Regions from separate parts of the Homo sapiens genome. Here region 2 is linked to region 1. The links come from fine-mapping of genetic effects on gene expression. A gene starts in region 1. The other region holds a variant in brackets. All regions are shown on one strand. Distances are from middle to middle. Region 1 holds the start of ATF7IP2 (activating transcription factor 7 interacting protein 2). Region 2 has its middle 56 kb from the start of ATF7IP2.

Region 1 (15,323 bases):
ATGTGCCATCACACTCAGCTAATTTTAAAATTTTTTTGTAGAGACAAGGTCTTACTATGGTGCCCAAGCTCATCTCAAACTCCTGGCCTCAAATGATCCTCGGCCTACCAAGGTGCTAGGATTCCAGACATGAGCCACTGTACCTGGCCTTCATATTACTATTGACATACAGATGCTGTGTGACTTGCAGTAGTATTACATCCCAAAAAACCTATCAGAAATTGAAAATATCCTAGGTCAAAGATGCAGTTAATACAGGTACAACTAACCTACCGAGCATCATAGCAAAACCTAAGCCTACCTTAAACATGTTCAGAACACTCATATTAGCCTACAATTGAGCAAAATAATTTAACCCAAAGTTGATTTTATACTGAAGTCTTGAATTTCTCATGGCTTTATATTCTACCGAATGCCTATCACTTTCTGTAGCATCATAAACTAAAAATCATGTCAAATCACAATTCAGGGTCCACCTGTAGCTTGATTTATGTCTGCCTTTCACTTTTTGGCTTATGTCTCATGCCTTTTGTTCTATTCCTTTACTGCCATAGGATTTTTCCAATGGTGTCTTTTTTTTTTTTTTTTTTTTTTTTTTTGAGACAGAGTCTCACTCTGTCACCCAGCCTGGAGTGCACTGGCATTGAGGCAATCTCAGCTCACTGCAACCTCCGCCTCCCAGGTTCAAGCAATTCTCCTGCCTCAGCCTCCCAAGTAGCTGGGATTACAGGTGCCCACCACCATGCCCAGCTAATGCTTGTATTTTTAGTAGAGAGGGGGTTTCACCATGTTGGCCAGGCTGGTCTCAAACTTCTGACCTCAAGTGATCCGTCCACCTTAGCCTCCCAAAGTGCTGGAATTACAGGTGTGAGCCATCGCACCTGGCCTAATGGTTTCATTTTTAAAACTTCATTTTTCTTTTCTTTTGGAGACATGGATTCACGTTGTTGCTCAGGCTAAAGTACAGTGGGCATGAACACAGCTTACTGCAGCCTCAACCTCCGGGACTCAAACAAGACTCTAACCTGACCCTTCAAGTAGCAGGGACATCAGGGGCGCCCATCACACCCAGCTAATTTTTTTTTTTTTTTAAAGACAGAGTCTCACTATGTTGCCCAGGCTGGTCTTCAACTCTTGGGCTCAAGAAATCCTCCTGCATTGGCCTCCCAAAGTGCTGACATTAGACAATTTATGGGCCTGTGCCTGGCCTATAAATGGCTAACATTATGTTTATAATTTTTATATCAATGTTAATGAGAGATGGGTCTATTTTATTGGGTGTTGATATCAAAGGTTTGCTGACCTCATACAAACTACAAAGTCTTTCTAGTCTCTGAACAATTTCTGTGTGAATGGTGTTATTTTTCCTTAAATATTAGAATAATTAACCACTAATGCCATTTGGGCCTGGGGTTAACTTAGTGGTAAAGGTTTTCCATTAAAATTGAGGTAGAACCAGCTGGGAGCAGTGGCTCACACCTGTAATCCTAGCACTCTGGGAGGCCAAGGCTCAAACAGCCCAGGAGTTCAAAACCATCTTGGAGATGTCATCTCCAGTTTAAAAAAAAAAAAAAAAGGCCAGGCGCAGTGGCTCATGACTATAATCCCGGCACTTTAGGAGGCCAAGGCATGTGGATCACCTGAGGTCAGTAGTTCAAGACCAGCCTGACCAACATGGCGAAACCCCATTTCTACTAAGTACAAAAATTAGCTGGGCATGGTGGCGGGTGCTACTTGGGAGGCTGAGGCAAGAGAATCACTTGAACCTGGGGGGTGGGGGTTGCAGTGAGCTGAGATCTTGCCCGTTCACTCCAGCCTGGGGAAAAGAGTGAAAATCCGTCAAAAAAAAAAAAAAAAAGATAATACAACCATTCATACTTTTTATATCTTTTGGTGTCAATTTTACCTATTTTTCCATTTCAACACAATTTAAAATTTGTCAACACAAAGTTCTTATAGTATTCTCTAATTGTATGTGTAATACCTGTAGTGCTGTCCCTCCTTTTCTTTTTTTTTTTTTAAACAGAATCTCACTCTGTCACCCAGGCTGAAAGGCAGTGGCACGATCTCAGCTCACTGCAACCTCCACCTCCCGGGTTTAAGCAATTCTCCTGCTTCAGCCCTCCAGCAGCTGGGACTACAGGCGTGCACCACCATGCCCAGCTAATTTTTGTATTTTAGTAGAGATAGTGTTTCACCATGTTGGCTAGGCTGGACTTGAACTCCTGACCTCAGGTAATCCACCTGACCTGGCCTCCTAAAGTGCTGGGATTACAGGCATGAGCCACTGCACCCGGCCTCATTCTTGATATTAGTGATGTGCTTTTCTCTTTTTCTTGATCATTTTTATTAAACATGTACCAAGATTGTCAAAGTCAACAAAAATACAAAAAAGACAAAAAGAGGCTGTCAAAGTACTTTAAGTTTGCTAGCTTCCTATTATACAGTGTTCCATTTCATAATTTCCTGCCATATTCCTTTTCTTTTTTTATTTGACACAGAGTTTCACTCTTGTTGCCCAGGCTGGAGTGCAATGCAAGATCTCCGCTCACCGCAACCTCTGCCTCCTGGGTTCAAGTGATTCTCCCATCTCAGCCTCCTGAGTAGCTGGGAGCCACAGCGCCTGGTCTTTTTAAAATTTTTATTGCCCAGGCTGGTCTTGAACTTCTGGGCTCCAGCAATCCACCCACCTCAGCCTCCCAAAGTACTGGGATTACAGGTGTGAGCCCCCACGCCCAGCACATTTTTTTTTTTTTTTGAGACAGGGTCTCTCTCTGTGGCCCAGGCTGGAATGCAATGGCGCGATCATAGCTCACTGTAACCTTGAACTCTTGGGCTCAGCAATTCTCCCATCTCATTCTCCAGAGTAGCTAGGACTACTGGCGCATGCTACTGCACCCAGCTAATTGTTTTTCATAGCGATGGGGTCTCATTATGCTGCCCAGGCTGGCTTCAAATTCCTAGGCTTAAGTAATCCTCCAGTCTTGGCCTCCTAAACCATTGGGATTACAAATGTGAGCTACAATGCCCTACCCTCCTTCTGCTTTCTTTGCGTTTGCTTTGCTGTTCTTGTTGCAGCTTCAGGTAAAAACTCAGATATTTTTTCAGTCTCTCTTTTTCCTTTTCATTTTTAGAGTCACACTTTGTCACCCAGCTGGAGTGCAGTGGCATGAACACAGCTCACTGCAACCTCAAAATCCTAGGCTCAAGTAATCCTACTGCCTCAGCCTCCCAAGGAGGTAGGACTACAAGTGTGTCCCTCCATGGCTGGCTAATTTTACAAAACATTGTTTTGTAGAGACAGGGTCCTGTGTAATGTTACCCAGGTGGGTCTCAAACTCCTGACCTCAAGTTATCCTCTACCTTGGCCTCACAAAGTGGTGGGATTACAGGCATGAGTCAGCATGCCCAGCCTATTACCTTTTTTTCTAATTTCTCACTTAAAGCTGTAAATTTTCCTCTAAGCCCTACTTTAGTTGAGCCCACAAGTTTTGAAAAACTCTACCTTATAATTTGATATTTATCCAATATTCTCTAAGATGCATTGTAATTTTTTAACCTGTAGATTATTCACAAGCATGTTACTTTCCAAGCAATAACATATTTCCTGTATCTTTGTGGTTAAAAGTTAGCTTAATCTTTTTTCCTGTTATAGTTCGAAGTTATGGGTGCATGCTGATTTAGTTGGGTTTTTTCCTGCTTCATTGGGTTTCTCCATTATAAAACATCTCTGTTCTCCAGTGATGTTCTCCAAGGTAGTATCTTAATACATAATAAACACTTTAATAAGAACAATTCTCATTAAATTAAAAAAAACTACTGAACTGAATTTTTACTGTTACTCTTTTTAAAAAGTAAAAATTTAGAAAAAACCCATTTAACTAATCTTGTTCAAAGTCAGGTACTTCAGCCAATATTTGAACGGAGGGTCTTAAGACTCGAAGAAGTCTATCACAAACACAAAACAGTTATTATGAAGCGACAGGGCCCTTTAAGAGTTATATAGTGGTTAACAAAATAACAAAACTCAGGCCAGGTGGCAGTTAATCTCATAATGACCATGAAGTAATGCCAAGTGTGGTTCATAGACCAGCAGCATCCGCATCACCTGAATGCTAATAGAATTCTGACATTACTTTTTTCAAGTTTTATCAATGTAATAGTATAAAATGCTCATTATGAAATAAAGCAGTTGCTTGCCAGCACTCCCGAATATCTAATGGCAATCACTTTAATTTTAACAACTTGTTTTTAAAATCTCAGTATTTTAAAATATTTTCATACTGTTTCTTGAGTTACAAATTTTAGCCATGTCGATTTCCTGTAATTGCAGATGAAGATTTAGCTCACATATGTATTTTTTTTGGAGGTGGGTTGGAAACATTTTAATTGGATGGTAGGGGATGGTAACACTGGACGGGGAGCACTCACAGTTCCAAGAGTTTCCCTCCAAATTATAAAGACGTTCTTGTAATTAGCTAGATTTCCTATAGCCAGGTCTTATGCCCAAGGGAAGGAGGGGAGGATGTGAAAAGCACTGTGGTCTGCCCTCCTGTCATTCGTAGATCCAGTTCTGTAGTTCACACGTCTCTTACAGCTCATCGTATTTTCAGTTAAATCAATATTTAAGTTGTTATAAATATTCTCTATATAGCCAGATAGACTACCATGACTACACTATCTTTCTTTCACAGTAGTTTGTCTTTTCCTGGAGATATCAACTGAACCTTCTTATAAACCTAACCTTCACTTTCCAAATTGACCAGAACTGTCATATTATCAACCTTCCCTCCTAGTCTATGCTCTTTCAAGATCAAGCTTAAAGATCACCTCCTCAAAAAAACAGCCCCGAGAGAACTACTACTTCTTTATCTAAATTTCCCACTATAATTTTTTTTTTTTTTTGAGACAGTCTTGCTCTGTCGCCCAGGATGGAATGCAGTGGTGCGATCTCGGCTCACTGCAAGCTCCGCCTCCCGGCTTCACGCCATTCTCCTGCCTCAGCTTCCCGAGAAGCTGGGACTACAGGCGCCGGCCACCACGCCCGGCTAATTTTTTTGTATTTTTTAGTGGAGACGGGGTTTCACCATGTTAACCAAGATGGTCTCAATCTCCTGACCTCGTGATCCACCTGCCTCAGCCTCCCAAAGTGCTGGGATTACAGGTGTGAGCCACCGCGCCCGGCCTACAAATATTTTTTATATCTTCAGTGACATGCCTTTCTTACAGTAGTTTTAATGCTGTTTAATGAATATTCACTTAAAAAACAAACCTCTGGAAAGCCACCCAGAGTTATTCTCTCCTTAATAACAAGTACTGAAAAGCCTCCCAAAGTCACTGTCTCCTTAGTAAAGAGTACTAAAAAGGCCTTGGCAACTTTTGCCATGGCTATCTGATAAGCTATTTCACATCAGCATACTGTACACACTAGAGCCTCAGAGGTATACTAATGAAACTTATGACCACATTTAGTAGACACATATAATGCCTCTAAATAATTCATGGCTAACTTCAGTAACACCTCTCTAAACATTTCATGGCTTAATCAGAAGTTCAAAAAAATCCAATATATTATCTCCCTTTCCTCCAAAAAGTCATGGTTATTTCTCTCTAGACACTGGCTGACTCCAATCTGTCCCATCGTTGGTAAAAATGAAGATGAAAAACTATCCTAGTCTACTGTAAAGCAGAATAATTATCTAAATGATATAAAAATATGAGATAGGCCGGGCGCTAAGACTAGCGCCTGTCATCCTAGCACTTTGGGAGGCAGAGGCGGGCTGATCACCTGAGGTCAGGAATTCGAGACCAGCCTGGCCAACACGGTGAAACCCCATCTCTACTAAAAATACAAAAACTAGTCGGGCGCCTATAATCCCAGCTACTTGCAAGGCTGAGGCAGGAGAATCACTTGAACCCGGAGGGAGGAGGTTGCAGTGAGCCGAGATCGCGCCACTTCACTCCAGCCTGAGCCAAAGAGCGAATCTCTGCCTCACAAAGAAAAATAAATAAGTAAAATAAAATAAAATAAACGAGATAGATAAGTCACCGCAGTGTGTGTGTGTCCGGGTGGCGGGGGGAGGGGGGGGGAGTAAAATAGACTGACATAGAATGAGAGAATAAGATTTTTTGGTATTTTGTATCATCTCGCTCAACAATGAGAACTAATACTCTTGCGCATTTAAAGTTGTATTTTATTTTTAACTATCCAATATATTAAACTTTGATTACATCAAATGAAATAGATTGTGCACACTCACTATAAGAGAGCTATGATATATGCAGAAGCAAAGGTGCAGGGATCATGCAATAGTTTCGTACCAGATTTCAAGATACCAAGTAGCAAGGAAACACAATGGAATTGAAGGCTGAGGTGAAGTACAGGCATAAGGCAAGGAAAGCAGAACATTCAAGATGTACCTATATACACCAGTTCTTAAAACACGCAAATCATTTCCAATAAGGCACTGGCTCATGTATTTCTGTTGAGGCAGAAGTCAATCTTAGGATGTGGTCTGTACATATCTGCAGATAAGACTGAGAGTGAAGTAAATTTGATTAAGATCGGAGTCAACACTTCTACAAACGTATTGCAGAATAAACGAGCTAAGAAGAAAGGCATACTTCACAAAAGCTGAATTCAGTGTTATTAGTCCTTCATTCAGATGCTTCATTTTTGCATTTTCAATTGCTTTCCTGTGATATAACTTATCTTTATCTTGGTCTTCCCCATTTGTTTTGCAAATAGTTATGTCGCAGGTCATTTACTGGCTACAATAAATATGACAAAATCATAATAAAAACAGTATTAAGTCGCAATCTAGAATAACAATTTAAGTGAATATGACATAATTTTTCTAATGTGGACTATTCAGTACAACTGTCCTCTTCTTCCATACATATTAACCATATGCAAGTCTTCAGAACAGAAAAAGCCATTGTGTCGTAAAGGAAGGAACACGTGGTTAGAAACTTCATTTTCAACACAGAAACACGGAAAGGTAGAAAGTCCGTTTCCTTAAGTGCGGTAAGGTTTTAACAAAAATAAGGCAAAAAAAATTATTGCGTCCTCTCTTTCTCAAACTTGCTTGCCAAACTTGGAGAAAACTGGTTAGAGAAGGGCGATAAGATGGAATTTTCTTAAAAACATATTCATAAAAACGAACTTCTACCTTAAGGAAATCGTCTTCCTTAAATCCTACCATCCTTACACCGGCAAGCTCAGAGGTACGGGATTTCAGCATTTTACTCAGAATTTTGTATTTTTCCTGATGCTCTGGTCCCTACTTTTTAACAAACTTCAAGGCCGCCAGGCGAGATCCAGTTGCCTTCTGGCACCTGACTTCATTAGATGATTAAAACAACTCAAGAAAATTTGGCAATGGGACACTAAAATTGGTGGAGGTGGAGATTTATCCGTTAATTTCTGAAAGCATTCCGGACAAGAGCGAGCTTTTACTTACCCCTCAGGACAAAAAACACGCACCACTTCCCTCCGCAGTCCCTAACCCCAGTGCCGCCCGGACCTGAGGCCGCACACCACTCCCGCTTCACCAGTATCCCTCTGCGAAAACGGTGGAGACGCGCCCGTCCGCCCCTCAGGGGCCTCTTCCCGGACCTGTCAGACGGCCCCGCGGACGCTTTTCAGTCAGGGCAGCTTCGCCGCAAACGTCCGGTAGGCCCGGCGCTCCGAGGCCTCCGGGGCCGGCCCTCAGAGAGGCGACCGACGCTCCTAGAGCCGCCACCCCGCCAATCGCCGCTCTCGCAGGACACTCGCCCGGCCCCAACGTACCTAGAGCGACGACGCACCAGCCGCAGCAATACCCACAGCCACTTCGAACCGCAGCCGTTAACAATGCTGGTCCGGCCAGGACCTGCTGAAGTAGGTCTCCCTACGCCCACCCCCAGCTGATTATGGACCAATGGCAGCGCGAATATGCGGCAGCCCAGCCAGTCAGGCACAGCCAGCTAGAGTGGGCGGGGCGAAGGGTCGCGAGGGGAAATGGAAGTAGGCTGAGGGGCGCCTGGGGTTCGCCTCCGTGGGCGCTTCTTCCGGTCAGCCACCGGGGCTTACCCGCCATAGCGCAGATGCAGGCTCCTGAGCTGGGCCTTTCTTTTGAGTGACTCGTGTGAAGATTTAGACTTTCGAAACTTATTAGGAATAAGACCTTATTTACAAAAACAACTCCTCACCCGGTCGGTAGTTTCCGATTTGAATTTTCTAATATTGTTTGAAAATATTTATCTTATTTACTTTTTTGGACGACTCCTTAAATTTTGTGACTCAGGAGATTGGTCCTAGCACCGTAGTCTTTTTTTTTTTTTTTTTTTTTTGAGACGGAGTTTCGCTCTTGTCGCCCAGGCTGGAGTTCAGTGGCGTGATCTCAGCTCACTGTACCCCCATTTCCCACCTCCCAGGTTCAAGCGATTCTCCTGCCTTAGCCTCCCGAGTAGCTGGGACCACAGGTGTGCACCACCATGCCCGGCTAATTTTTGTACTTTTAATAGACATGGGGTTTCACTATGTTGGCCAGGCTGGTCTTGAACTCCTGGACCTCAGGTGATCCGCCACCTCTGCCTCCCCATATGTTGGGATTACAGGCATGAGCCACTGCACCCACCCGCACCATAGCCTTGAGTTTGCTAAATTGTCCCAGGAACCTGCCAGCCTTGGCTGCTTGTGATTTCATGAGGCCCGATGCCTTAGGTGGCTGTGCACTTGGATGCCATGAACTCACTCAACAGGTGGTCACTGAATGCCCACTGTGTAGAAAATACAGGAAATACAACAGTAGATTAGATCCATAATGCCCTCTTTTTCATTAATTAATTTATTTATTTATTTGACAGAGTTTTGCTCTTGTTGCCTAGGCTGGAGTGCAATGGCGCGATCTCGGCTCACCACAACCTCCGCCTCCCGGGTTCAAGCGCTTCTCCTACCTCTGCCCCCAACAAGTAGCTGGGATTATAGGCATGCGCCACAGTGCCTGGCTAAGTTTTTTTTTTATTTTTAGTAGAGACGGGGTTTCTCAATGTTGATCAGGCTGGTCATGAACTCCCGACCTCAGGTAATCCACCTGCTTCGGCCTCCCAAAGTGCTGGGATTACAGGCGTGAGCCACCACGCTTGTCATGAGGCTAGAGCTGCCTGCCTTGTCACTTCCAGTTAGGAGAAAAATGAGGCAAGTCCGGACAATCTAGGTTGGGTCATCAATGGAATAACATACTCCAACCAGCCAGTTCCCCAAATATGCTCCAGGGATCTAGGGGTAATCTTTAATGTCAATCCTATTTTTATAATTATACTATTTTTATAATAATATAAAGATGATTTTGCTTTTTTCATTCTCTGAGTCAGGAGAGTACATGGAATTTTCTAGAAGCCTCTGGAAAATCGACGGGTGATATTGCTACAGATTGAATACAGAAGCAGACATGAGAATCTAACTACCAACCTGGGCAACAAAGTGAGATACCCACTTTTCTAGAAAAGTAAAAATAAAAAGTTAGCTGCATCCTTCCACCTACACGGGAGGCTGAGAGGACGGGAGGATCGCTTAAGCTTAGGAGTTAGGGACTGCAGTGAGCTGTGATAGTGTCACTGCACTCCACCCTGGGTGATAGAGCAAGAGACTGTCTTAGAAAAGAGAGAGAGAGAGGCCAAGCGCAGTGGCTCACATCTGTAATCCCAGCACTTTGGGAGGCTGAGGCAGCCGGATCATGAGGTCAATAGTTCGAGACCAGCCTGGCCAACATAGTGAAACCCCATCTCTACTAAAAATACAAAAATTAGCCGGGCATGGTGGCGCGTGCCTGTAATCCCAGCTACTCGGGAGGCTGAAGCAGGAGAATCGACTGAACCCGAGAGGTGGAGTTTGTGGTAAGCCAAGATCGCACTACTGCACCCCAGCATGGGCAACAGAGTGAGACTCCGTCTCAAAAACCAAAAAAAAAAAAAAAAGAGAGAGAGAGTCTTACTGTATTAAGTCAGACGTTAAGGAAATTAGCAAAAATGTAAAACAATCCTAATCTTTGCACATTTTTTGTTGTTCTAGAACATGATTTTGAAAATAATTATAGGGTTGCTAAGAGAGATAGTGTGGGAGGGAGTGGGAGGTAGTAAGTTGCAGTCAGATAAGGAATTTGGACTTAATTCAGTTAACAGTGAGTAACTAGCCTTTAGAAATGTTATGTCTATTTAAGGTACTAGGATATCTTGTATGTCATTTTAACAATAGTAATATAATAGGCCAGGTGGACACCTGTAATCCTAGCATTTTAGGATGCCAAGACCGACAGATAGCTTGAGCCCAGGAGTTTGAGACCAGCCTGGGCAATATAGCGAGACCCCATCTCTATAAAAAAATTATAATAATTGATATTTACTGGACATTATGTTAATAAAGTTTATTGTTGGCTGGGTGCGGTGGCTCATGCCTGTAATCCCAGCACTTTGGGAGGCCAAGGTGGGCAGATCACTTGAGATCAAGACCATCCTGGCCAACATGGTGAAACCCTGTCTCTACTAAAAATACAAAAATTAGCTGGGCATGATGGTGCGCACCTGTAGTCCCAGCTACTTGGGAGACTGAGGTAGGAGAATTGCTTGAACCTGAAAGAAGGAGGTTGCAATGAGTCAAGATCACGCCACTGCACTCCAGCCTGGTGACAGAGCGAGACTCCATCTCAATAAATAAATAAATAAATTCATTCACATAATGTGCTATATGAAGTACTATGAAGTCTCTCAATTTGCTGTTTGACTTTTTAAAATAATGCTTAACATAATAACAGATACAGTTGCTTGTACATTTCCTGACTTATAGTAGACACTTGATGTATAGTAACTATTATTATTAAAATTAATAAAGCTGAGAATATCAATTATCTTGAGTAAATTCTTTACATTTTTGTGTTGGAATGCTTTCTTGTTTGATAGTTTTCTTCCATTGAGGATTGTGGCGGGCAGAATTTGTACTCCCATGATCTTTGTCTCCTAGTGTGCGTCTTATGGTTATAAGTCACCTTACATGGCAAAAGGGACTTTGCAAATATGATTAAGGTTGTAATCAGCTGACCTTAAGATGGAGAACTTAACCGGGATTTCCCTGGTGAGTACAGTGTAATCACGTGAATCCCTAAAGGCAAAAGACAAGTCACACAGATGCAGCAGAAAGGAAAGTCATAGATTTTCAAAGCACAGGCAGAACTCAGCCCATGGTTCCTGGCTTGAAGATGAGGGGGACCACATGTAAACCTTGAGAATGAAAGTAGTACTGCCAACGACCTGAATGAACCCAGAAGCAGATTCTTCTGCAGAGCCTTAGCTGGCTGACAGCCTATTGAGACCCTAAGCAGAGTTCCCAGCTGAGTCCACTGTGCTTCTGACTTCTATATAGAACTGTGAGATAAGTGGGTAGTGTTTTAAGCCATTATGTTTGTGGTAACTTTTTATGGCAACAATAGAAAACAAATGCAAGCATTCATTCCACACACTTCTCAGCACTCCCTAAGGCAAGGCGGAAACCCTATGAACTACATTTCCCAGGAGCCCTTGCCTCCTGTATTCTGGATTCAGTTGTGTTTTACCCAGTGTAATGCACTTCCTGAAATTTGAAAAGTGGCAGAGATACATGTTATTGTGGGTTTTTTCCTTAGGCTTTGGCTCTCTTTCGCACCAGTCCCTGTCTCAGTTATTTAAAGGCAGCTGTGACAACAGTGGTTTTCTGAACTTTTCTGCCCTTTGGGCAGCAGAAGCAGCACCCTTCTTATTCTCTGGACCACAGAGGCAGCAGCACAAATGAAAACCAATGTGAGGCTGGGCGTGGTGGCTCACGCTTGTAATTCCAGCACTTTGGGAGGCCGAGGCAGGCGGATCACCTGAGGTCAGGAGTTCAAGGCCAGCCTGACCAACATGATGAAACCCTGTCTCTACTAAAAATACAAAAATTAGCTAAGCGTGGTGGCGGGCACCTGTAATCCCAGCTACTAAGGAGGCTGAGGTAGGATAATTGCTTGAACCCAGAAGCAGAGGTTGCGGTGAGCCGAGATCGCACCATTGCACTCCAGCCTAGGTGACAAGAGTGAAACTCTGTCTAAAAAAAAAAAAAAAGAAAGAAAACCAATGTGACAGTAGCTCCTCCAGCCCTTACAAACTTATGAGCATCTAATTCTCTGTACTAAATACCATTATGTTTGAAATATCTGGAGTGGTTTCATTTTTCCATGACTGAACCCTAATTAATAGACTTCTCCATGCCTGAGTTTCCTGACATATAGAATGAAATTACTAACAATATGTAACACATAGTAAAAATGTAACCATTTAGAATTATTACATGAATTAAATTACATTGACCCAATTCATGTAAAGTGCTCAATAGAGTACTTAACCAATAGTAAGTGTTCAATAAACGTGTGTTAGTATTTTATTTCCTAAGGGGCTATTAGTGTGATACCATATTGGCACTACAAAATGCCAGTTTATTCTACCTTTTCTCTAACCTATCATGAACATTCCTAGCTTGAAAACAAACATACACCAGCCTTAGCAACATAGAGAGACCCTGTCTCTACAGTTTTTTTGTTTTTTTTGTTTTGTTTTGTTTTTTGGTTAGCCAGGTGTTGTGGTGTGTGTCTATATTTCTAGCTACTCAGGAGGCTGAAGTGGGAGGATTACTTCAGCCCAGGAGTTCCAGGCTGCACTCCAGCCTGGGTGACAGAGCAAGACCAAAAAAAAAGAAGATGAAAGTAAAAGAAAAGGGGCCAGGTGCGGTGGCTCACGCCTGTAATCCCAGTGCTTTAGGAGGCCAAGGCAGGCGGATCACGAGGTCAGGAGTTCGAGACCAGCCTGGCCAACATGGTGAAACCTTGTCTCCACTAAAAATACAAAAAATTATCTGGTTGAGGTGGCAGGCACCTGTAATCCCAGATGCTTGGGAGGCTGAGGCCCGAGAATTACTTGAACCTGGGAGGCAGAGGATGAAGTGAGCTGAGACCGTGCCACTGCACTCCAGCCTGGGCAACAAAGCGAGCCTCTGTCTCAAAAAAAGAGAAAAAGAAAAAGAAAAGAAAAGAAAACACACATGCATTGTGAGGACTAAACTCTGATTTTTAAAAATGTTGGCCAAATTCCTATTTAAGGGACCTGGGGAGTCACGCCCTACAAACCATAAATTCTCATCAGTTGGGTATAAAACCCATGTATCATGACTTACTTTCCAACCTGACAAGAAAGTCAAAATATTTTACCCCAAAATATGTTTCTTTGACGTATTTTGAAATGATCCTGCAAAGCTGTCCTTTGTGGAGCAAAATGTGCATCTGTAAAGAATCTCTATTAACACAGCTAGATATTTTTCTTCCAGGCCCTCCCAATCCTGAAGAGATTAAGTAAAAGTCTAGCACCCTTTAAAGGTATGAATAGGAAACATGTGTCATCTGTTGTCTCTAAGGGCAGCCACTATAAGACTTCAAAAGAACCTTGGTCTCCACAGTCTTTTATCTTCATCTGAACACTTCTTGATCCCAGGTCTTTTTTTTTTTTTTTGGTGGAGTTTCACTCTTGTTGCACAGCCCAGGGTGGAGTGCAGTGGCACGATCTCGGCTCACTGCAACCTCCACCTCCTGGGTTCAAGTGATTCTCCTGCCTCAGCCTCCAGAGTAGCTGAGATTACAGGTGTGCACCACCATGCCCGGCTAATTTTTTTGTATTTTTAGTAGAGACGGGGTTTCACCATGTTGGCCAGGCTGGTCTCGAACTCCTGACCACAGATGAACCACCTGCCTCAGCCTCCAAAAGTGCTGGAATTACAGGCGTGAGCCACTGCACCCAGCCTGATCCCAGGTCTTTAGACAAACTCAACCAATCATCAATCAGAATGTTTAAATTTTCCTATAGCCTGGAAGCCCCCATCACCCCTGCCTTTCCGGACCAAACCAATGTTTTTCTTCAACGTGTTTGATTGATGTCTTATACCTCCCTAAAATGTATAAAACCAAGTTGCACCCCTACCACTTTGGGCACATGTTCTCAGGACCTCCTGAGGGCTGTGTCATGGGCCATGGTCGCTCATATTTGGATCAGAATAAATCTCTTCACATATTTTACAGATGGTGACTCTTTTCATAGACAATTGCCACCTCTTTATCTATTGGAGGGCTTTAGCAGCCACAAAATAACATAAGAAGTCAGAATTATATGTAGTTTTCAGACTGTCAAGTATAAAAAAAAAACTCTGAGGTTAGACTATTATGTATTGGTCTTTATTGGATTTTTTATTTTATTTTATTTTATTTTTGAGAAGGAGTTTTGCTCTTGTTGCCCAGGCTGGAATGCAATGGCGCGATCTCGGTTCACCTCGACCTCCGCCTCCCAGGTTCAAGCGAGTCTCCTGCCTCAGCCTCCTGAGTAGCTGGGACTACAGGCGAGTGCCACTATGCCTTGCTAATCTTTTGTATTTTTAGTAGAGACGGGGTTTCACCGTGTTAGCCAGGATGATCTCCATCTTCTCACCTCGTGATCCACCTGCCTTGGCCTCCCAAAGTGATGGATTATAGGCATGAGCCACCATGCCTGGCCAGATTGATTCTCTTTCAAAAGCCATATGAGGCCAGGCACGGTGGCTCACGCCTGTAATCCCAGCACTTTGGAAGGCCAAGGCAGGCAGATCACCTGAGGTCAGGAGCTCGAGATCAGCCTGGCCAAGATGGTGAAACCCTGTCTATACTAAAAATACACAAATTAGCTGGGTATGGTGGTGGGAGCCTGTAATCCCAGCTACTTGGGAGGCTGAGGCATGAGAATCGCTTGAACCCAGAAGACAGAGGTTGCAGTGAGCCGAGATCGCGCCAGTGCACTCCAGCCTGTGCAGCAGAGCGAGACTCCATCTCAAAAAAAAAAAAAAAAAAAAAAAGTCTGGAAATACAGCCATCACAGTAGGCAAAAACACTTTTATGGTGACTATGGAATAGTAACCCTTGTCTACCTTACAATTCTCATTTCTAGGCTCTTGATCTACAGCCTCTCTAGAAGACACTGTATTATTTCAAGACTTCAGGAATTTGCATTTGCTGCTTCAACTATTTGGAAAATCCTTTTCCCCCTTCCTCAAATGGCTAATGTCTACTCATTCTTCACCTTTGGTGACAAGGTTGAGTAATTGCAACAGAGACTATAAGTTCCACAAAGCCTTTTTTTTTTTTTTTTTTTTTTTTTTTTTTTTTGAGATAGAGACTCGCTGTGTCCCCAGGCTGGCATGCAGTGGTGCCATCTTGGGTCACCGCAATCTCTGCCTCCCAGGTTCAAGCGATTCCCTGCCTCAG
Region 2 (15,323 bases), 57 kb after region 1:
TCAGGTGCAGTGGCTCACACCTGTAATCCCAGCCCTTTGGGAGGCTGAGGTGGGCGGATCACTTGAGGTCAGGAGTTTGAGACCAGCGTGGCCAATGCGGTGAAACCCCATCTCTACCAAAAATATAAAAAGTTAGCTGGGTGTGGTGGTGCATGCCTGTAATCCCAGCTACTGGGGAGGCCGAGGCAGGAGAATCACTGGGACCCAGGAGGCAGAGGTTGCAGTGAGCCTAGATCATGCCACTGCACTCTGGCCCAGATGACAGAACAAGACTCTGCCTCAAAAAAAAAAAAAAAAAGTGCTGGGCGCAGTGGCTCATGCTTGTAATCCCAGCACTTTGTGAGGCTGAGGCGGGCGGATCACGAGGTCAGGAGATCGAGACCACGGTGAAACCCTGTCTCTACTAAAAATACACACAAAAAAATAAGATTAGCCAGGCGTGGTGGAGGGCGCCTGTAGTCCCAGCTACTTGGAGAGGCTGAGGCAGGAGGATGGCGTGAACCCAGGAGGCGGAGGTTGCAGCGAGCCAAGATCGCGCCACTGCACTCCACCCTGGGTGACAGAGAGAGATGCCATCTCAAAAAAAAAAAAAAAAAAAAAAAAAGAATAGCAAGGGTGGAGGGTTGGCTGTGGGTGGGGAAGTTTTGAAAAATGTTACCGGAATATACTTACCCATTGCTACTGTGAATATATAAAGACGTATGGCATATAAGATCTTCTGGTGCCAGGCATGGTGGCTCACACTTCTAATCTCAGCACTTTGTGAGGTTAGCTTGAGCCCAGGAGTTTGAGACCAGCCTGAACAACATGGCAAAATCTTGTGTCTATGAAAACTACAAAAATTCGCAGGACCTGGTGGCGCTCACCTGTAGTCCCGGCTACTCAGGAGGCTAAGGTGGAAGAATCACTTGAGCCTGGGAGGTCAAGGCTGCAGGGAACCCTGATCATGCCACTGCACTGCAGCCTGGGAGACAAAGTGAGACCCTGTCTCAAAAAAAAAAAAAAAAAAAAAAAGATGTTCTTGCAGTTTTCTTATGATTTGCTCTACGGTGTGATTAATAACAGTTGCTGTTGCAATAATTCCTGCTATATTTTGACACAGTGCTGTGAAAAGAAATCCAACATGGAGGCCAGGCGTGGTGGCTCACGCCTGCAATCCCAGCACTTTGGGAGGCCGAGGTGGGCGGATCACCTGAGGTCGGGAGCTCGAGACCAGCCTGGCCAACATGGAGAAACCCTGTCTCTATTAAAAATACAAAATTAGCTGGGCATTGTGGCACATGCCTGTAATCCCAGCTACTAAGGAGGCTGAGGCAGGAGAATCGCTTGAACCTAGGAGGCGGAGGTTGCGGTGAGCCGAGATTGCGCCATTGCACTCCAGTCTGGGAAACGAGCAAAACTCCGTCTCAAAAAAAAAAAAAAAGAAAGAAAGCCAACGTGGAGATGATTTGTCGGAGGTCTCTGTCAAGGAGCCAGGAGGGCAAAAGTTGGCCCTCAGTCATATATGGATCCAGAGGGATCTGACCTGTTTGAACTGGGCCAGATCGCAAACGTTCTGGAGAAGCAGCTTCATTGGGTTTGAACTGCTCACACTGGGGCAGATCACGAACCTCCTGAAGACACAGCTGTGCTGAATTTTAAGCTGATCATGGCCTAGAGTCTTTCTAAGCTGTCAGCTGGCCTATAGGGGGAGGAAAAAACAAACAAATGAAAAAAACAAGAAGAAATGTTTTATTCAAGGAATACAGGCCCCTTTAAGCCATCAGGCCAAAGAGGCATTGAAATGAAACAGCAGTTAGGTTACTTCCCTTTGAATTAATAATCACCTTATTTTTTATTTTTTTTTTTCAGAGACAGGGTCCGCCTCTGTGGCCCAGGCTGGACTGCAGTGGCACCGTCACAGCTCACTGCAGCCTCCCCCTCCTGGGCTCAAGTGATCCTCCCATCTCAGCCTCCTGAGTAGCTGGGACTGCAAGCACACACCAGCATGCATGGCTAATTTTTAAATTTTTTGTAGAGACAGGGTCTCACTGTGTTGTCTAGGCTGGTCTCAAACTCTTAGGCCCAAGCAATCCTCTGGCTTTCACCCCTGAGTAGCTGGGGCTACAGGTGTGCACCACCATGTCCGGCTAAATTTTTAAAAAGTTTTCAGCAGAGATATAGTCGCCCTATGTTGCCCAGGCTGGTCTCACACTCCTGGGCTCAAGTCATCCTCCCACTTCAACCTCCCAAAGTGCTGGGATTACAGGCTTGAGTCACTGCACCCAGCCAAATAATAATCACCTCTTGAAGCCACTTGCTGTGTGGCTTCTACACTTAACTAAGGCCACGTACCCCTAAAATACCAAATGCCCTACAGTTCACCAATATATAGCCAATCACTAGCCAATGTTATTTCTGTAAACCCATGAGAATTCCTAACAATGTTTGTAATCACCCTCTCTCCTCATTGGTTATTTTTTCTTTAAAAACTTCAGCCTCTCTAATGTCCTCTGGAGCACGCCCCACAGCAAGTTGGAAGTGTGTCCTGGACTGCTGCCCTCAACCTTGACCCAAATAAACTTTATATTAATATTGTCTCAGCTTCTCCCTTTGAGGTTGACAGGTCATGTGTCAATCACAGACTGTGCTACTGTCTTCCGCTTAGGTAAACTTGCAGTAAACCTTTAGAAACCCCTGCCTAGAGTCTTGCCTGGCTGAAACACGTTTTAGCTACTTGCTAGATTTGTTTCTCCCAAATTGCAATGCATAAAAACCCTGATTAAAATGCCTTCCTGGGCCAGGTGCAGTGACTCACGCCTGTAATTCCAGCACTTTGGGAGGCCAAGGATGGTGGATCACCTGAGGTCAGGAATGCCAGACCAGCCTGGCCAACATGGGGAAACCCCATCTCTACAAAAATACAAAAATTAGCCGGGCATGATGGCGGATGCCTGTAGTCCCAGCTACTCAGGAGGCTGAGGTGGGAGAATCATTTGAATCTGGGAGGTGGAGATTGCATGGAGCTGAGATCACTCCACTGCACTCCAGCCTGGGTGACAGATCGAGACTCTGTCTCAAAAATAAAATGGGCGGGGCACGGTGGCTCACGCTTGTCATCCCAGCACTTTGGGAAGCCGACATGGGCAGATCACAGGGTCAGGAGTTCGAGACCAGCCTGGCCAACATGGTGAAGCCCCGTCTCCACTAAAAATACAAAATGAGCCGGGTGTGGTGGCGCATGTCTGTAATCCAAGCTACTCGGGAGGCTGAGGCAGGAGAATCACTTGAACCCCTGGAGGCAGAGCTTTCAGTAAGCTGAGATCGTGCCACTGGACTCTACCCTGGATGACAAAGCGAGACTCTGTGTCAAAAAAATAAAAATAAAATAAAATAAAAGTCCCTCCCTTTGTTTGTGGCTCCCCAGTGTTGGTTGATAGTGCATGGATGAAATGTATAATGCCTCCTGAGTTCTCCTGCCCTTCAGGAAGGTTTTTTACACATATAGTGGCCTCAGATGCATTTCTTGATTTGGAGTTGAGGGTGGAATCTTGGCAGAATTGACAGAAGAGGCACCAGTGGGACAGAGGAGGGACAAGGGGAGCAACCTTTTTTTTGTTTAATAATGAGGGGGGAGGCGATGGCCTTCTCCTCCTTCCTCCCAGGGTGTCTCCTTAAAAACATAACAGGCCCCACAAAAAGTTGAAGGAGTGAAGAACGTGCCAACCCAAAATATGCTAGATTGGCATATTGATTATTTCGAGTTGAAAACATTGATGAAATTGTGGTTGGTATGTTTGCTTGTTTTATTTATTTTGAGATAGAGTCTCATTTTGTTGCCCAGGCTGGAGTGCAATGGCGCAATCACAGCTCACTGCAGCCTTCACCTCCTGGGCCCAAGCATTTGTCCTACTTCAGCTTCCTGAGTAGCTGGGTCTGTAGGTGTGCATCACCACACCCACTCAAGAGGAAATATACACTTTTTTTTTTTTTTGAGACGGAGTCTCTCTCTGTGTCACCCAGGCTGGAGGGCAGTGGTGCGATCTCGGCTCACTGCAACCTCCGCCTCCCGGGTTCAAGCGATTCTCCTACCTTAGCCTCCCAAGCAGCTGGGACTACAGGTATGCGCCATCACGCCCAGCTAATTTTTGTATTTTTAGTAGAGACGGGGTTTCACCATGTTGGCCAGGATGATCTCGATCTCTTGACCTTGTGATCTGCCCACCTCAGCCTCCCAAAGTGCTGGAATTACAGGCATGAGCCACCCCATCCGGCCCACATTTTATTAGTTTTACATGTACATGGGGATCTTCACAAGAAACAAAAAAATGATTCTTTTTTTTAGATGGAATCTTGCTCTATTGCCCAGGCTGGAGCGTAGTGGCGTGATCTCAGCTCACTGCAACTTCCGCCTCCTAGATTCAAGCAGTTCTCCTGTCTGAGCCTCCTGAGTAGCTGGGATTACAGGCACACACCACTACGTCCAGCTAATTTTTGTGTTTTTAGTACAGAAGGGGTTTCATCATGTTGGCCAGGCTGGTCTTGAAGTCCTGAGCCCAAGTGATGTGCCTGCCTTGGCCTCCCATAGTGCTGGGATTACAGGTGTCAGTCACCGTGCTCGGGCCCAAGAATGTGATTCTTCACGAGCAGGAAGATTGGTTGGGCCCAAGAGTTTGAGACCAGCTAGGCAACATAGCAAGACCCTATCTCTATAAAAAGAAAAGTGAAATAATTATCTGGGCTTGGTGGAGCATGCCTGTAATCACAGCTACTTGAGTGGCTGAGGCAAGAGGATGGTTTGAGCCCAGGAGTTTGAGGCTGTAGTGAGCTATGATCATGCCACTGCACTCCAGCCTGGTGACAGAGCAAGAGCAAGACCTTGCTCTAAAAAAAAAAATTAAAAAGGGCTAACTGACCTCTCTCTTTGTGCATGCAGCAGGCCATAAAAATTCCTCTGGGAGGAGGGCTGTCACATACCAGGGTGAGAAAATAGCCCTTATCACCAGAGACTGGGAATTGGGGACTGTGATGGACCTGAATAAACATACTTAATGAAACAATCTTTATCTTCCACTGTTTGACACCCCCATATATCTCCTAGCAACTCCCCTAGAAAATTTATTGCCCTAGCCAGGTTTTCCTGTCATTTCTTCTCAAATGTAATCTAAATAGTGTACAAATAGTATACAAGCATCTATCTTTAGCCACTTGTTTGAACTTCACGCTATTATGAAGACCCCCATGTACAGGTAAAACTAATAAAATGTATATACTTTTGTTAATCTGCATGGTGTCAATTTGGTGTCTAGATCCAGCCAAAGAGCCCACATAGGAGCTAAAGGGGAGCTGGAGGTGACCACTGGCTCCTTTACAAGGTCCAGCCTTTTGATTTCATAGCACAAAATCATGGGCTTTCTGAGGCCAGGCACAGTGGCTCATGCCTGTAATCCCAGCACTTTGGGAGGCTGAGGAGACCGGTGATCATAAGGTCAGGAGTTTGAGACCAGCCTGACCAACATGGTGAAACCCTGTCTCTATTAAAAATACAAAAATTAGCTGGGCATGGTGGCACGCACCTGTAATCTCAGCTACTCAGGAGGCTGAGGCAGGAGAATCGCTTGAACCCGGGAGGTGGAGGTTGCAGTGAGCCGAGATCACACCACTGCCCTCCAGCCTGGGCGACACAGAGCGAGACTCCGTCTCAAAAAAAAAAAAAAAAATTATGGGCTTTCTGATCCTTGGAACTGTAAACACGCACCTCCAAGGCTGACATAGAAGGAGGAGTACAGGAGGCAATCCAGAGATAAGATTTTCTTTTAAATTTTTATTTTTTTGGAGACAAGTCTCACTCTGTTGCCCAGGCTGTAGTGCAGTCATTCCATCATAGCTTACTGCAGCCTCAGGCTCCTGGGCTCAAGTGCTCCTTCTGCCTCAGCTTCCTGAGTAGCTGGGTTATAGACGCGCACAACAAGCCTAGCTAATTTATTGTTTACTTTTTGTAGAGACGGGGTGTTGCTCTGTTGTCCAGGCTGGTCTTGAACTCCTGGGTTCAAGTGATACTCTCGCCTCAGTCTCCTAAAGTTCTGGGAGTACAGGAGTGAGCCACTGCACCTGACCCAATAAGAGATGCTTCAATTATTCTCTCTTCTACTTTTCTGTAAATTCTGTTCAGATTTTGTCCAGACTATCAGAAAAAAAAGAAAGAAAGAAAGAAAAGAAAGAAAGAAAAAAAAAGGAATCAACAGGTCAGAGGCAAATAAGCATTTATTCAGGAATGGGGGTTGCAACCAGGCCCCAGAGACCACCACCCAAGAGGGACAAGAAAGGCTTATAGGAAATTTTTCAGATGACATAAATTACCAGATTATTTTATTGATGGATTAAGCAAAGAAGTTGTTAGTCATTAGTGGAAGGGTACATTTGGGTCAGTTAGGAAAAAACTACACAGACTGTCCCTAAAGATTAGGACCAGATTCCTTGTATTGTATATTGTCGAGAGCATGGTTGTTTGTGAGAGAACTGTTTTTCACAGTTCTTTGTGGGTCTCAAAGTCCACCACCCAATCTAGGCACAGTGGCTCACACCTAAAATCCTAGTACTTTGGGAGGCTGAGGCAGGCAGATTAGCCCAGGAGTTCAAGACCAGCCTGGGCAACATGGTGAAACTCTGTCTCTACAAAAAATACAAAAATATTAGCTGGGTGTGGTGGTGCACACCTGTCGTTCCAGCTACTCAGGAGTTTGAGACAGGAGGATTGCATAAGCCTGGGAGGTTGAGGCTGCAGTGAGCCACTGAGCCATAGTCGTGCCACTGCACTCCAGCGTGGGAGACAGAGACTCTGTCTCAAAAAAAAAAAAAAAAAAAAAGTTCATCATTAGTTCAGTCTGGGGTCAGTAGCCCAAGATAGAGTCCCCGATGTCAAGCGTAGAACAATGCTCTATTCAAACACTCAAATGACCTGTGACAGAGATTCTCTTCTTCACCAAACTCTACTCAGGTTCTCCTAAACTCTTTGTCCAGTAGGTTTCAACTTTTGGAGTTCCGTGTTGATAAAAAAAAAAAATTTCAGGCCGGGCGTGGTGGCTCACACCTGTAATCCCAGTACTTTGGGAAGTTGAGGCAGGTGGATCACCTGAAGTCAGGAGTTCGAGACCAGCCTGGCCAACATGGTGAAATCCCATCTGTACAGAAAATAAAAAAAATTAGCTGGGCATGGTGGTGGGTGCCTGTAATCCCAGCTACTTGGGAGGCTGAGGCAGGAGAATTGCTTGAACCCGCAAGACGGAGGTTGCAGTGAGGCGAGATTGCACCAGTGCACTCCAGCCTGGGCGACAGAGCAAAACTCTGTCTCAAAAAAAAAAAAAAGAAAAGAAAAGAAAAGAAAAGAAAAGAAATGGAGAAGTAGAGCACATGCTCAAAGCACCTTCTCCCTGAGGGTATGGTGAAGGGGGGTTTTTAAGGTCTCTTAGAACATGTAGGTGGAGACTGGGGGGTGGTGATTTATGGAAAAAGGTGGGACCTTCCAGGGAGAACTGGAGCATGCACAGTCTCCTTCTTTCTTTTCCACTGGCACTATATATGCCTAGCAAAGCACATTTCTCCCCATCCCAGGTGAATATTTTCATACAGCGAAAAAGCAAGGATTCAGGTCCGGGTAGCAGGATGGTAGTGTTTACTATACAGACTCAGACTTGGGAGCCACAGTTCTTATCCTGTGGCTCGTTTGTGGTTACTGACATCCGGCCTTCATTTCTGTAAGCAAGCACATCTGCAAGCACAGGTTAATGTCACAAGTTCTGGGGCTTTTTTTTTTTTTTTTTTTTTTATTCTTTGAACGGAGTTCCACTCTGTCGCCCAGGTTGGAGTGCAATGGTGCAATCTCGGTTCACTGCAACCTCCACCTCCCAGGTTCAAGCGATTCTCCTGCCTCAGCCTCCCGAGTAGCTGGGATTA[C/T]AGGCATGCACCACCATGCCTGGCTAATTTTGTATTTTTAGTAGAGATGGGGTTTCTCCATGTTGGTCAGGCTGGTCTCAAACTCCAGGCCTCAGGTTATCTGCCCAGCTTGGCCTCCGAAAGTGCTGGGATTACAGGCGTGAGCCACCATGCCCGGCCTATTTTTATTATTTTCTTTTTGAGATAAGAGTCTTGCAGCCGGGCGCAGTGGCTCATGCCTGTAATCCCAGCACTTTGGGAGGCCGAGGCAGGAGGATCACGAGGTCAGGAGATCGAGATCATCCTGGCTAACGTGGTGAAACCCCGTTTCTACTAAAAAAATTAGCTGGGCGTGGTGGTGGGCACCTGTAGTCCCAGCTACTCGGGAGGCTGAGGCAGGAGAATGGCATGAACCCGGGAGGTGGAGCCGAGATGGGGCCACTGCACTCCAGCTTGGGCAACAGAGTGAGACTCTGTCTCAAAAAAAAAAAAAAAAAAAGAATCTTGCTCTGTCACCCAAGCTGGATTGCAGTGGTGCTATCTCAGCTCCCTGCAATCTCTGCCTCCCAGATTCAAGCGATTCCCCTGCCTCAGCCTCCCGAGTAACCAGGAGTACAGGTGTTTACCACCATGCCCAGCTAATTTTTGTATTTTCAGTAGAGACGGGGTTTCGCCATGTTGGCCAGGCTGGTCTGGAACTCCTGACCTCAGGTGATCTGCCCACCTCAGCCTCCCAAAGTGCTGGGATTACAGGTGTGAGCCACCATGCCAGGCCTATTATCTTTAAACCAAAATTAGGGATGCCTTTGCTCTCCAGATATCGGGATATCTGGACACTCCCAAGTCTGAGTCTGTTCGGTAAACACTATCAATCTGTTCCCTTAACTGTAAACATCTAGAGGCTAGGAATACCTTTCTGGGAATGCAGCCCCGTAAGTCCCAGCCTCATTTTCCTAGCCCTCACTCAAGATGGAGGCATGCTGGTTTTAAGGCCTCTGACAAAAGCAGTGGTTAGAATCTGGGCTCTAGGCCAGGTTGAAGCTGCAGTGAGTCATGATTGCACCACTGCACTCTACCCTGGGTGACAGAATGAGACCCTGTCTCAAAAAAATAATAATAGGCCGGGCATGGTGGCTCATGCCTGTAATCCTAGCACTTTGGGAGGCCGAGGAGGGTGGATCACCTGAGGTCAGGAGTTTGAGACCAGCCTGGCCAACATGGTGAAACCCCGTCTCTACTACAAATACAAAAATTAGCAGGGCCTAGTGGCGGGCGCCTGTAATCCCAGCTACTCGGGAGGCTGAGGCAAGAGAATCGCTTGAACTCAGGAGGCAGAGGTTGCAAAAAGCTGAGATCACACCATTGCACTCCAGCCTGGGAAACAAGAGTGAAACTTCATCTCAAAAATATAATAATAATAATAATAACTAATACATAAAAATTGGGGGCTCTATAATACCTAACTTAGCAGAGGACAGGTGGGAGGGGGCAGTGAAAGGGCATTTATGGAAAAGCAAATGACTTTTTGGAAGGATGAATGGGCCCTTATGAGAACAGATAGGAGATATGATGGTCTTGTGACAATGAGTGCTTGGGTGTGCTGGCGACTCCTCTCTGAGAAGAGTAGAATTGTTCCTGGGAAGGGGATTTATGACAATTGAGTTTCTTTGACTTATTTTAGGGGTTTTAGAAAATGAAATGCCTTCAGCTCAAAATAATTCTTATGTCAAAGTGGCATATTTTAGGGTAGCATGTCCTGATGCTCTTCACTTGGAATACAGGCAAAGAAGAATATGTGGGTTCTGGCTGGGCATGGTGGTTCACACCTACAATCCTAGCACTTTGGGAGGGCAAGGCAGGAGGATCCTTAAGCCCAGGAATTTGAGACTACCCTGGGCAACACAGCAAGGCGTTGTCTACAAAAAAATTAAAAATTAGCTGGGTGGCCGGGTGTGGTGGCTCATGCCTGTAATCCCAGCACGTTGGGAGGCTGAAGCAGGTGGATCACTCGAGGTCAGGAGTTTGAGACCAGCCTGGCCTACATGGTGAAACCCTGTCCCTCCTAAAAATAAAAAAATCAGCTGGGTGAGGTGGTGCACGCCTGTAGTCCCAGCTACTTGGGAGGCTGAGGCAGGAGAACCACTTGAACGCGGGAGGCAGAGGCTGCAGTGAGCCAATATTGCACCACTGCACTCTAGCCTGAGTGACAGAGTGAAATTCTATCTCAAAAAATAAAAATAAAGATAAAAAAAATTAGCTGGGTGTGGTGGCACATGCCTGTAGTTTCAGCTACTTGGGAGGCTGAGACGGGAGGATCGATTGAGCCCAGGAGTTGGAGGCTGCAGTGAGCTATAATCATGCAACTGCACTCCAGCCTGGGTGACAGAGCGAGACCCTGTTTCAAAACAAAACAAAGAATATGTGAGTTTCACCTTGAGAGGCCTTGAAGGTTACTCCTGTTGGTTCTCAGAACATGATACTCCGATATGTGGCATCTTGGCAACTGAAATAGCCTCAGAAGCAAGAAAGCGGCTCTGACCCTCCCCTACCTTTCAGTGTGAGAGCCGGCCATAAAGGAATTCTCTGGCTGATTGCAAGTGCCTTTGCAAAAATTATAACTGAGAAAATTATAACAGTGAAAGAGATCTGACCCAACCGACTCCATCTTGGTTCTCTCCTCCAAGCTGTCCTTGTTCATTCCTGGGCATAGGCTAAACTATGGGAGAAACTTAATTTATAGTTTAACTTAGAAACAAAGATGATAACAGCCTTTTCCCAAAACAAACCCCCTTCCGGCCTGGGGACTAGACTGCCTTTGCAGGACCAACAAACTAGCCACAAGATTAGAAATTATGGTTTAGGGGTCATGTAGCTAGAGGGTGCAAGATTCTGAACCTCTCCAAATTGCTCCTGGGGGTAACATCACTATCATAAAACGTAAGATCAGTGTTTGATATATTTTGCAGACCTTGTACCTGATGGATCAGCTGGTACCACCCAGATCGATAGACTGGCTCATCTGGTCTAGTGGCCCCTACCCAGTAACTGACTCAGCGCAAAAGGACAGCTTCCACTCCCTATGACTTCATCTCTGACCTAACCAATCAGCACTCTCCACCTTCCAAATGTCCACCCATCCAATTATCCTTAAAAACCCCAATCCCTGAGTTTCTGGGCAGCCTGATTTGAGTAATATTAAAACTCTGGTCTCTCGTACAGCTGGCTCAGTGTGAATTAAACTCTTTCTTTATTGCAATTCCCCTGTCTTAATGCATCAGTTTAAATTGGCTCTGTCGAGGCAGTGGGCAAGGAGAATCTGTTACACAGTTACATTACCTTGCCTGAAAGTAGGACCTAAGATCCTCATTCTGTCAGAGGCACTTGAACCAGAGCAACTCCATCTTAAATAGGAACTGGGTAAAATGAGGCTGAGACTTACTGGGCGGCTTTTGCAGGAGGCTAAGGCATTCTTAGTCACAGGATGAGATAGGAGGTTGGCACCAGATACAGGTCATAAAGACCTTGCTGATAAAATAGCTTCCAGTAAAGAAGCTGGCTAAAACCCAAAACCGAGATGGCGATGAGAGTGACCTCTGGGTGTCCTCATCGCTATGCTCCCACCGGCACCATGACAGTTTACAAATGCCATGGCAACGTCAGGAAGTTACCCTATATGGTCTAAAAAGAGGAAGCATGAATAATCCACCCCTTGTTTAGCATATCATCAAGAAATAACCACAAAAATGGGCAACCAGCAGCCCTTGGGGCTGCTCTGCTTATGGAATAATAGCTATTCTTTTATTTATTTTTTTTATTTTTTGAGATGGAGTCTCACTCTGTCGCCTAGGCTGGAATACAATGGCGTGATCTCGGCTCACCACAACCTCCGCCTCCTGGGTTCAAGTGATTCTCCTGCCTCAGCCTCCTGAGTAGCTGGGATTACAGGCACCCAGAGCCACACCTGGCTAATTTTTGTATTTTTAGTAGAGACGGGGTTTCTCCATGTGGGTCAGGCTGGTCTCCAACTCCCAGCCTCAGGTGATCCACCTGCCTTAGCCTCCCAAAGTGCTGGGATTACAGGCATGAACCACCATGCCTGGACCATTTGTTTATTTTTTTAAATTTTCCAGTAAACTTGCTTTCACTTTACTCTATGGACTCGCCCTAAATTCTTTCTTGAGTGAAATCCAAGAACCCTCTCTTGGGGTCTGGAAAGGAACCCCTTTCTGGTGACAATTCCAGAGAGATCCTGCTCTATGCCCAGAGGCCCTGCACCACCCCCAGTTTATTAACAGTAGATCATACTCTTCTTGTCAAATCATCTTTGTACACAACTGTTCATTTTCCAGTGAATCTCAGCATAAAAATACAGTTTCCTCTGGGTCTTTGTTTCTGAAGGCTCTCGTGTCATGCAAAATTTTGTTAAATTCATTTGTTATGTTTTTCTCTTATTAATCTGTCTTTTGTTGTAGGAGTGTTGGCAATGACCCTTGTAATGGGTGAGGATAACTTATTACCTTTTCACTCCTACGGTAGTTAATTATCCTCTAAATGAAGTTGAGGTACAAGGAGAGGATTAAGTGACCACTGATTGAGAAGAAGTGGCTGCATGTATGGCAGATTGACCTACACCCACCATTCCCTCCATAAAATCTCCTGGCTAAGCATGGTATACTGAATGCCACAGCTAGTAGCCCTCTGTACCCCTCAATGTTCTCATTTATAAAAGAGAATAACACTTTTATATCCAGCTAACTTCTGTATTTTTAGTGGAGATGGGGTTTCACCATGTTGGCCAGGCTGTTCTCAAACCACTGACCTCAAATGATCCACCCGCCTCGACCTCCTTAAGTGCTGAGATTACAGGCATGAGCCACTGTGGTTGGCTAGAGTAGTTGTCTTAAGGATTGACAAAGAGCCTCCCCTTGACCAAGCTTTAGGGAGATTCATCGAAATCCTCTTCCCAGTTAGGTCTCAACTCTTGGACTTCCATGGTGTTTTTTTTTTTTTTGTATCGCCCAATTTTAGCAAGAATCCTGCTAAGTCAGTTTAGCCAGAATCCTCAACCCTGGATATCTGATCACATTCCAGATCACCCTGGCTTACCTGCAGCAAGAGTCCTGTTAGGTCCATTTAGCCAGAATCCTCTTCTCTTACCACTAATGTTTCCTTTAGCTAATTTTCCACTCATGGATCCCTACCCTGTTTCTGGGCTATAAATTTCCACTTGTCTTTGTTGTATTTGCAATTCAGCCTATTTTTTTTTTCTTTTCTTTCTTTTTCTTTTCTTTCTTTTTTTTGAGATGGAGTTTCATTCTTGTTGCCAGGCTGGAGTGCAAATGGCACGATCTTGGCTCATTGCAAGCTCCACCTCCTGGGTTCAAGCAATTCTTCTGCCTCAGCCTCCCAAGTAGCTGGGATTACAGGCACACACCACCATGCCTGGCTAATTTTTGTATTTTTAGTAGAGACGGGATTTCACCATGTTGGCTAGGCTGGTCTCGAACTCCTGACTTCAGGTGATCCTCTTGCCTCAGCCTTCCGAATTGCTGGGATTACAGGCATGAGCCACCTCGCCTGGCTGAGCTGGGGTTTTTTTTTTTTTTTTTTTTTTTGGCTAGTGTATTTATTTTCATTTTAACATCTTTCTATAGACTTTGCTTTTGAAATGGCCACTACTGAATTCCTATGCACAGGCCAATATTTTTGTCTGATCATAGGGAGTTTCCACAGAAACTTTCCGAAACTGGGTATTGATAATGGTCATAACTGTAGATTTTTGTTAGTTCTGGTTTCTCTGTGCAAATATACCTGCAGGTAAAAAAAGATGGGTGGACCAGGGGAAGAGCTTTAGGGAGGAGAGAAAAAAATCTGTGACCCTGCCAACCAAAAAGTGAAATTACAAGTGCTAGCACTTAGAGAAATCACGGTTAGATTTACTCTGAGTCAAGTTGGAGGACTGAAGCCTGGGAACACATACTCAATATAGACCAAGAATCTGTCCCAATGTAGGTTGTGCAAGGCACAGTATATACACATTTTCAAACAGGAGGATGTGTGTGGCACAGAAGGTAGGAGAAGAGGGGAGAGAAGCAAGGGTTACATTTTTGTGATTCTCATTGGTGCTCCGTGACTGTATACATAAGATAAGGTAAAAGAGCAGTTGAGCGGGTCAGGAGAAAGGTTAGGCATCTTAGGGCCTGGTGGAGGGTGGCTGATTCCAGCCTGTCTTTGTTCTACCTCAGATAAACAAGTTTATACCCAGTACCTGTCAGTGAAATGTTTAACAAGCTCCAGTTACACAGGCACACAGGCAAGAGGTCAGCTTTAGTTTATAGGCATAGGGTTTTTTTTGTTGTTGTTGTTTTGTGACGGAGTCTCGCTTGGTTGCCCAGGCTGCAATGCAGTGGCATGATCTCGGCTTACTGCAACCTCCTTCTCCCAGGTTCAGGCAATTCTCCTGCTTCAGCTGTTGCAGTAGCTGGGATTACAGGCACCCATTACCTCACCCAGCTAATTTTTCTATTTTTCAGTAGAGACGGGGTTTCACCATGTTGGGCACGTTGGTCTTGAACTCCTGACCTCAAGTGATGCACCCACCTTGGCCTCCCAAAGTGCTGGGATGACAGGCATGAGCCACTGCACCCGGCCATATAGTCATAGGTTTATAAACCATGTGCCTAACTGTAGCTATTGTGGGTCACTGTTAACAGTTTCTTTTGAATTTTCCTTTTTCTGACAACCCCATGACCCATAAAAACACGAAAAGGAATACGGATTTTTTTTTTTTTTTAAAGACAGAGTCGGCTGGGAGTGGTGGCTTATGCCTATAATCCCAGCACTTTGGGAGGCCGAGGCGGGTGGACCACTTGAGGTCAGGAGTTTGAGACCAGCCTGGCCAACATGGCGAAAACCCATGTCTACTAAAAATACAAAAATTAGCTCGGTGTGGTAGTGCGTGCCTATAGTCCCAGCTACTTGGGAGGCTGAGGCAGGAGAATTGCTTGAACCTGGGAGGCGGAGGTTGCAGTCAGCTGAGATCAGGCCATTGCGTTCTGGTGACAGAGTGAGACTCCATCTCAGAAAAAAAAAAGAAAGTCCTTGCCTTTCCATGTGACCCCTGCTTTCGAAGCCTTATTAGAAGGGGTGCCCAACTTTATATCTTCTTGGTTCCCCCTTCTTTCAAGTTTCTTTCCTTAAAGCTGCTGAGAATGTAGCTCATTTATGTAGGGGCCAGCTGCTGTGCACAGGGTAAAATGGATAAAAAGCATGCCTCTGAGGATAACAAATGTGGTTGGCCTTGGTGAGATGGGAGTGGAGCAGATAAAGGCCCTTGGAAAAAAGAATAAGGAGCTGAAAAATGTCACATGTCTCTGGGAAAGGGAGAAATCATTATAGAACAAGAGAAGTAA

Evidence for each region. PIP is the estimated chance that this variant, and not a neighbour inherited with it, causes the effect.
Region 2: its variant is fine-mapped to the expression of ATF7IP2 in whole blood (TOPMed, PIP 0.99).

Annotation. Positions count from the first base shown.
Region 1 is chr16:10,378,592-10,393,914 of GRCh38, reverse strand. It overlaps ATF7IP2 (activating transcription factor 7 interacting protein 2), which reads right to left and starts at 7,854. Exons shown (of 14, transcript NM_001393719.1): 1 at 7,793-7,854. RefSeq lists silencers at 7,976-8,115, 11,161-11,230 and an enhancer at 11,431-11,500.
Region 2 is chr16:10,322,069-10,337,391 of GRCh38, reverse strand. No RefSeq gene overlaps it. Among named protein-coding and RNA genes, the nearest start is that of ATF7IP2, 56 kb to the left of the region's middle. RefSeq lists silencers at 5,633-5,833, 7,546-7,840 and a cis regulatory region at 13,929-14,250. The variant C/T (reference allele first, on the strand shown) is at 7,933.